3 separate regions of the Homo sapiens genome follow, and regions 1 and 2 are each linked to region 3. The links come from fine-mapping of genetic effects on gene expression. A gene starts in region 3. Each other region holds a variant in brackets. All regions are shown on one strand. Distances are between the middles of the regions.

Region 1 (2,722 bases), 36 kb after region 3:
TGCAGGGCATGGGACGCCGGGGGAGGGTCAGTGAAGAGGCCCATGGGAGGATGGAGACCAGGGACCCAGAGAGGAAGGGTCCGGGCCACACCCAGCACACTGCAGGAGGGACAGCGGGCAGAGGGCCACATGGGCAGACATGCACCCTGACCTTGGGCCTCTCTCCACTGTAGAAGGGCTATCGGAAGGAGGACTTCCTGGGCCCATAGGTGAAGCCTTCTGGAGGAGAAGGTGACGTGGCCCAGCGTCCAAGGGACAGACTCAGCTCCAGGCTGCTTGGCAGCCCAGCCTGGAGGAGAAGGCTAATGACGGAGGGGCCCCTCGCTGGGGCCCCTGTGTGCATCTTTGAGGGTCCTGGGCCACCAGGAGGGGCAGGGTCTTATAGCTGGGGACTTGGCTTCCGCAGGGCAGGGGGTGGGGCAGGGCTCAAGGCTGCTCTGGTGTATGGGGTGGTGACCCAGTCACATTGGCAGAGGTGGGGGTTGGCTGTGGCCTGGCAGTATCTTGGGATAGCCAGCACTGGGAATAAAGATGGCCATGAACAGTCACTGCCCTGTGTCCTTCCATGGCTGGCCCGACCCTGTGGCTGGCAGCATGATCCTGGGACTCAAGGTGTCCCCAGGCACCCCCTGCCCCTGAGGACACCCACCCCCTGGGCTCACACACAAGCCTCCCAAGATCAGAGGACATAGGACATGGAGAGCCCAGCAGAGGGACAGCTGGCACCTCAGGGCCGAGAGGGGACAGGGTGGACAGCGGGTGCACCACAGGCACAGACGGAGCAGAGCTGGGGGCCTCGAGAGTAGAGGGGTGACTGGAGTAGGAACAGGGTGGCTGCCTCGTGGGCTACACTCATGCGGCAAATGAACCCAACTCCTCCGCCGCCCACCCTGGGCCTGGAGTTGCCTGGACCAGGGGCTCTCACACTGGCTGCCTGAGGTTTGGGGTCCAGTGGGCTCTCGGACACCCCCATCCATCTCACCCAGAGCCAGGCCATTTAGTTGTGAAGTTACTGTGGATATTCTTAAAACAGAAAGTTTCTGTGAAGCTCAGAACTTGAGGTCTCTAAGGAGCCTGCCCCCATCCAGGATCTGCCTGCATGGGAAGGGTCTAGGAAGAGTCACGTCCCCAACCAGGGACCAGGCAAGGAGGCCCAAGGAGGCTACTGTAAGCACGGGACACGCCTGAGCTGGCTTAGGAAGGGGGATGGAGAGAGGGCAGATTTGGTGATTTGGCGGGTGGGGATGAGAGAGGGAGGGGTGGGGATGAGAGAGGAGGGGTGGAAGGCTGAGAGAGCCGCAGAGGGAAGCCGAATCCGAAACCTTCCGCCGCAAGGGAGGAGAC[C/T]GAGGCCCCAGCAGAATCCAAAAGGACTTTATTTTCTGGCACTGGGAGGCGCCCTGAGGCCACAGCCTTTTCCCAGGGCTGCTGGCAGGGTCCCAGGGCTGCTGGCAGGGGTTGTGGTCCTGTTGAGCAGAGGAGCGACGCCGCTGCCCTGGCCCCCGCTGTCCCTATGATCCTGCACTCTGGGGTGGGAGCTACATATCATCCTTGGACACCAGGCAGTAGAAGTCTGTGCGGGCACTGTAGTTTCGCGAGCCGAGATCCGAGACGTCCACTTCGCTGCTCCGGCTCTCTCCCAGCGAGACCCCACTGGTGTGCGGTGGAGCTGATGGCTCTCCAAAGACAGGCCCCCGGACACCTGGGGTGGGGAGACCGAGACGCCTGAGGTGGCCACCCACAGCCTTGGCCCAGACCCACTGCCAGGGGCTGCCCCTGCTCACCCCCTGCTGTGATGGCCTGTGAGGCCCAGGAAGTTCCCAGGCAGACCGAGGGCCGAGCACCTCCAGGGCAGAGGCCGTGCAGGGGCTCCCGGTGCCGGGAAGAGTCCTCAACACCTGGAGCCCCTCCAGGCCCTGTGCCCTGTGCCTGCCCCCACTCCGCCCTGTGCTGAGCTTCTCCAGTTGGGGAGTGGGGCTGGGCGGGCATACCCAGGTCGCCCTCAGGGTCCGGGTCCACCTCTGAGTCCAGGGCCCGGCCCTCAGGGACTCGGCCTCGAAGAATCAGCATGGGGTCCTTGTCGTCCTGCAGCTGCGTCTGGGGGTCTCCTTCCACAGGCCTGTACTGCACCTTCCGCGGCAGCGCCAGCTGCACTTCTTTCCAAAAATCGGAGGAAGGAGTCTGGGGGCCAGGTCGGGGCGGTTTGCAGGTGTGAACACCTCGGAAGCCCCTGGCGTCCTGGCCCCCAAGAGCACACCTGCGGCTGCCCACGGGTTCCACGCCCTGCGACAGCTATTCCGTGGCTCCGGGGGCCTCAAGGGCGGCTCCCCGCATCGGGGCCCCAGGCAGCGGAACCTCCCCCCAGGGCCCATTCACAAAGCGTGGTGCCGCAGAGCTCCCCACGGAGGGGTCCCAGCCTGGAGCCCGGGCACCGCCCATCTCTAACCCGCCGCTAGCCCCGGACCCTCCCGCGCCTGCTCCGCACCACGGAGCCGGGCCTCCAGAGCAGCAAGGTCACCAGGTGGCGGTGCTGGCGCAGCAGGCGGAGCGCCGGGTGCGCGGGGTCGCGCCTCTGGCCCTCGAAGGTGATGAAGATGGGTCTGCGGGTGAGCTCCAGCAGCCGGCACAGGCCCTCCCTGCGGGGCGGGACCGTCAGGGGGGTGGGTGCTACGCTGGGGCCCACCCAACCCCGCGCGGGACCCACCGGAAGCTGTGGCTGCACCAG
Region 2 (2,746 bases), 70 kb after region 3:
ACAGGTGAGGGCTGGACCACCTGAAGTCACCTCCACTTCCAGCCATGCAGACTGTTCGGTTTATCCACAGTGAGATGTCTGGGACCCCCATGTCCCCAGTCCATGGGCCCCACCTCCGGGAAACTATGTATGGGCCCACAGGCTTCCAGCTCCCAGGGTAGGGACAGGGGCTGTCCCTACACACTCAGTCTGAGGGCCTCTGAAGCTTCAGCCAGCCTTGCCATCTGCAAACCCAGAGAGGGAGGCCGGCTCTGGGTGGACAGCCGGCCAGGCCCTAGCTCTGACGCCACCGAAACACCCCAGGCCTCAGTTTCCTCGTCTGTACAACAGGGTGTCCTCACCCCAGCCCCCAGGTCACCTCAGCGACGTGCAGACACAGGAAGAAGGTGGACAGAACCACACACTGTTCTCCCCCATCCTTCCTGTCCCACAGCCCTCACAGGTGACACACCCAGTACTCCAGGGCCCCAGGGAGTTTGTGGGGGGCTCTTGGCACCCCCATTGTGGGCATAGGCCAGCGTCCAGTGGGCAAGCCCCTGGTTCCCAGTGAGGAAGCTTCTGGAGACACTGTAGCCTGCAGGAGACCCTCCCTCCCAAGGGCTGGAGTGTGAGGACAGAGCTGGGGGTCCTGCCCATCCATCCTCTTCCCAGTCCAGCCTCCAGGTTGGGGGCAGGCAGAGGAGATGGTTGTGCAGATATGACCCCACCCTACTCCTGAGAGGCCTGGCCAGGGGGTCCCATGACGCACATCCCCCCAGCTGTGCATGAGAAGGAGCAGGCCTGGCCAGGGGGTCCCACGACGCACATCCCCCCAGCTGTGCATGGGAAGGTGTTTGGGCCTCATCTCCTCCTGAGGTCACGTCAAGCCTCTTGGCCGGTGCCCTGAGCCCTCTGGGATCTGGCCCTTGAGAACTTTACAGTTTCGTCATCCACAGAGGGTCCCCTTCTGCCCCACCGCAGTCCCAAGCATGGAGAGGCCCACCTTGTGAGCCACAGCGTCTCGCCTCTGCCCAGCCCACGCATCCTCTGAGCAAACCCTCCCCAGCTGGCTCTGCGCTCCTGAAGCCAGTCTTCTGCCCACCCCCCGGCCCCTCCAGCTGTCCAGTCTGTCATCTGTCAGTTCACCCATCCGTGTGCCCGTCCATCCCCAGACACTGACGGAGCGACCTGCGTGCAGCCC[TC/T]CCAGGCAGTGCGTGGCGTTCGTGGACGCAGGGGCGGGGGCCTACTTGGCAGGTGAGGAGGCATGGAGCTTGGCATTGTAGGGCAAGAGGTTGGCAAAAGGTGAGAAAATGGGGGCAGCATTCCCGGGAGAAAGAACATGTGTGGGCACGCCCTGAGAATCAGGGTGCAGTTGGTGTCTGGGACTCAGCAGTCAGCACCTCCCAGGGACTCAGCACTCAGCACCTCCAAGGAGGACTTGGTAGCTACTACTCCTGGTGACTCAGCACTCGGCACCTACGGAAACTGAGTCCAGGGACTCAGTCCTTGGTACTTCAGCTTTGCAGAAGCATAAAGGGCAAGAAGGGAGCTGCCAGAAGGGGAGGCTGGAGGTTGGCAGAGGCCAATCAGGGGAGGCTGCTAGGCTTCTTGGCCAAATGGAGAGCTTGGACTTCAGCAGGGGGCAGTGGGGAGCCATGGAAGGGGTTAGAGCAGAGGAAAGGCACGCCCAGATCCAGCCTGGAGCTGGGACTAGCAAGTCCTCCCCATGTCTGCAACTGTCCTTTTTGATCACCACAGGAGTTTTGACCTGCTCCGTTTCCGACCTGGACCGGTTCACCCCTCCTTAGGCAACTTGGTGGTCCCCTGCTCCTGGGAGGTCACCATACTGATGTGCGGACAGCCAGTCAGCCTAACACACTACAGCCCAGAACTCCCAGGCTCGAGCAACCCTCCTGCCTCAGCCTCCGGAGTAGCTGGGACCGCAGGCTCATGCCACCACGCCCGGGTTCCAGCAGTCCTCCTGCCTCAGCCTCCCGAGTAGCTGGGAGCGCAGGCACGCGCCACCACGCCCGGGTTCGAGCAGTCCTCCTGCCTCAGCCTCCTGAGTAGCTGAGACTGCAGGTGCATGCCACGACGCCCGGGTTCAAGCAATCCTCTTGCCTCAGCTTCCGGAGTAGCCGGGACCACAGGCATGCGCCACCAGGCCCGGCTGCAACTGTCTTTTTTGAAGGACTGATGCTCTCACTTCCAACAAACCAGGTGCTGCTTCTCCCAACCCAACCCCTGGCCAGCCCCAAGTCTCTCCTCTAACCCCCAGCATGGGAGGAAGGGGCTGGCAGAGGGGACCCTGAGCTCAGGCTAAGGGGCATCAGGTGCTGGGCTGAGCAGCCAGGGTGTCAGACCTGGATGTGGAGGGCCGAGGAGAGCCCTGGGCGGAGATGGAGCAAGAGGCCGCCGGCGCAGCCCACACGTGGAGGCCCTGGCAGGCCGAGAGGGAGGCTGGTTTCACTCCACACCTCACCACTGCCTCCTCCCTGGGCCGACCAGGTGCTGACCTGCCCAGGTGTTGGCCCTGGCCCCAGGTGACCTCTTCACTGGCAGAGGGGAGAAAGGATGTCTTTCTACGTGTTCACCTGCACTCCCTCCCCCAGAATCGGAATCCAGCAGCAGCAGTCAGCGCCCACCCCCAGAATCGGAATCCAGCAGCAGCAGTCGGCCCCCACCTGTGCTGGGCGGGGTCCTTGGGGAGCAGAGAGCCCACAGCCCGCCGGCCACTCTGCAGCTCCCAACCCTGGGGCAGCCTGCC
Region 3 (2,746 bases):
AGGAGGGAAGGAGTTGAGGTCTTAAGAAGGCAACTTCTGGGCAATCTTCCATTGTGAGGTGGGGTCCACGTCCCCACAACCCACGAACTTGGGTGGCCGTGCGGCATGTGGCAAACCTGAGGGGTGACTCCAAGATGCTTCACTCTGTGTGCTGGACCGGGAGGCTGCCCCTGGCAGCTGAGCCTGCAGGCGCTCTGGCCAACCACCCGGGGTGAGCCCAGCCATTCCTGCCGAGGGTGCACTGGCTTGGGGCAGAAGTCTCTGGATGGCTCCAGCCTGTCCCGCGGAGCCGGCCCCACCACTCACGTCTTCCCACCGGAGGCCAGCACCTCGAGGAGCAGAGAGGAGCTGTCCCCGAGTGCCCTGAGTTCCTGACCCACAGGACACAGGAACACAGGAACGCTGCTGTTGGACAGCACTGAAGCTGGGCGGTTTGCTACACACCCAGAGACAGCTGAGCAGACAGAGGGAGAAGAGTAGGGTCACGCTGGCAGCTGGACAAGGGAAGTACTGGGGGGACAGAGGGACTGGCAGGGGTTGGTGCAGACCAGGTGAGAAAGGGCACGAAGTGGGACAAGGTCCCGGTGAGAGGCACGACACTGTCACCTGCCTCAGGCCGCGCTCGGTGGGGCGGGGGCCACCAGCTGAGGCCCCTCCTGCCGCCCAGACAGCTCGGCCCCCTGCGGCCCCAGCCCTGCAGGCTGAGATCCCGCAACGACTCCCACCCCTGGGCTGAAGCCGGTGCTTGGGCCCCCCCGCCCCCCGGCCTCTCTCGCCCGCCCCCATTCCCCGCCCCCCAGGACCCCGGGTCCCTCCCCTCCCTCCTCCGTGTTGTCCGCCTGCAGTCCTTCGGGTCACTGTTCTCGGGAGGCCGCCCCGCCCCACAGTCAGGCTGTGCCCATCCCCCGCCGCCCCCCACGGTCCCCGAGCCCCAGCGCTTCCCAGCCCCGCGTCTGTGTGCCGCGCCCCCGCGCTCCGTGGCCCAGGTGGACGCGCGCCCCGCGCCCCGCATCCCTGTCCGTCCCGCACCCCTCACCCCCCGCCCCGCACCCTCCGCACCCCCCGCCCCGCCCCGCCTCCCCTCGCCCCGCCTCCTCCGCCCCGCACCCCGCGCCCCGCCCCGCCTTCCCGCGCCCCGCACCCCTCCCCGCGCGCCGCCATTGGCTCCCCGCGGCCTGGCTCGGTCCGATTGGTTCCGCGCGCGCGGCCGGGGCCCGATCCGCGGTGGCAGCCGTGGATGCTGTTCGGTCCCGCCGCCGCCCCAGGAGCGCGGAGCCGGGAGCGGCCGGGCGGGGGGCACCGCGAGGAGCCGCCCCCGCCGCCCACCCCGGGCCCGCGGCCGAGGGCGGCCTGGGGGGGTCGCGGCCGCACCCGGTGGCCGCGCACGGCGGACAAAGGACCATGCGGGGCCGCGGGCGCTGAGCGCGGCGGGGCGGGCCGGGGATGCGGCGCGGGGCGGGCGGGGGCCGGGGGCTGCAGCGGCGCCGCTGAGCGCGGCCTGGGGCGGGCGCGGCGGCCGCGATGCCGCGGCTCCCGGTGAAGAAGATCCGTAAGCAGATGAAGCTGCTGCTGCTGCTGCTGCTGCTGAGCTGCGCCGCGTGGCTCACCTACGTGCACCTGGGCCTGGTGCGCCAGGGACGCGCGCTGCGCCAGCGCCTGGGCTACGGGCGAGGTACGGCGCGGGGGGCGCGGGGGGCGCGGGGGGCGGGGGCGGCGCGGGGGGCGCGGGGGGCGCGGGCGGCGCGGGGGGCGCGGGCGGCGCGGGCGGCGGGGGCCCCGGGGCGCGGGCCGGGCCTCCCACCGCACAGAGGTCTCGGCTGGGCCCGACCCTCCCGGAGACCCCGCCCGCTGTTCTCCGCTCTGCGATTTGGGGGGAGGGGGCGCGGTTCGGCTCGGCCCGGACGCTCGATGACGTCGGCAGTGACGCGCGCGACCCTCCCAGAGAGGGTCCCTGACTCTGGGATCTGGCTTGGATCCGGTAGTGAGGGGCTGACGGTGGGCTCCTGGGGAAGTCTCTGCCCCTAGACCCTGCTGAGGCTTCCAAGAGGCCTTCTCAGGCCTCGCCTCCACCCCCTGCCCGCTTAGCAGGGCCTCAGTTTCCCTGTGTGCTGGGGACCCGGGCCGGGGCTTGCTGAAGTGGCCGGTGCAGCTGGGACGCTTCCCGGCGGGGGCGCCTTCGGTGAACTGTGCCAGTGTTGTGGGGGTCCATGCGTAGGGATGGGGCCCAGCTTGGGGAGCCTGGCGTAAACTCTCCCAACCCCAACCCACAAACAAAGCAGATGGGGTCACGGTGAGCCAGCCGGGGTAGGGCCTCCTGGAGATGGTGATCTTTGACATACACCTTTGGGGGAAAGAGCATTCCAGACAGGAAGGCGCAGATGAAAGCCTGGCGGTGGGGTTGGGGGAGAAGGTGGGGCAGAATGCCCCCTCTGGAGGAGGGAGGTTAGTGCCATGCCCAGACCAGGAGAGACCCCAGCTGGCTGCCTCTGAGCCTTTTCCAGGGAGCCAGGTGTCCTGAGGGGGCAGAACAATGATACTGGCTGGGGACTCCTGGGCCACTCCACCTGCCAAAGCCCCTGTGTTCTCTTCCTGTACCGGGACGCCTGGACCCACACAGGCCAAGGGTCTGGGGCTTGTCCCAACCCACATACCTCACAGCTTCCACACCCTCAAGAGACCCCCGATACTGCTGAATCCCTAAAAAGCCCCACCCCAGCTATCAGCAGACAGGGCAGGATCCACAGCT

Evidence for each region. PIP is the estimated chance that this variant, and not a neighbour inherited with it, causes the effect.
Region 1: its variant is fine-mapped to the expression of B4GALNT4 in whole blood (TOPMed, PIP above 0.99).
Region 2: its variant is fine-mapped to the expression of B4GALNT4 in whole blood (INTERVAL, PIP 0.94).

The regions. Positions count from the first base shown.
Region 1 is chr11:404,361-407,082 of GRCh38, forward strand. PKP3 (plakophilin 3) reads left to right here. Exons shown (of 13, transcript NM_007183.4): 13 at 174-548. The coding sequence ends at 209. SIGIRR (single Ig and TIR domain containing) reads right to left here. Exons shown (of 10, transcript NM_001135054.2): 7 at 2,702-2,722; 8 at 2,483-2,633; 9 at 1,989-2,178; 10 at 1,356-1,699. The coding sequence ends at 1,536. Among named protein-coding and RNA genes, the nearest start is that of SIGIRR, 9.3 kb to the right of the region's middle. RefSeq lists an enhancer at 1,162-1,855 and silencers at 2,432-2,481, 2,492-2,722. The variant C/T (reference allele first, on the strand shown) is at 1,345.
Region 2 is chr11:438,748-441,493 of GRCh38, forward strand. The region is part of intron 1 of ANO9 (anoctamin 9); the gene reads right to left. LOC105376506 (a long non-coding RNA gene) reads left to right here. Exons shown (of 5, transcript XR_007062542.1): 3 at 1-4; 4 at 1,152-1,233; 5 at 1,738-1,926. It also overlaps the pseudogene RN7SL838P. Among named protein-coding and RNA genes, the nearest start is that of ANO9, 1.9 kb to the right of the region's middle. The variant TC/T (reference allele first, on the strand shown) is at 1,181.
Region 3 is chr11:368,283-371,028 of GRCh38, forward strand. B4GALNT4 (beta-1,4-N-acetyl-galactosaminyltransferase 4) reads left to right here and starts at 1,217. Exons shown (of 20, transcript NM_178537.5): 1 at 1,217-1,672. The coding sequence starts at 1,522. RefSeq lists an enhancer at 1-288.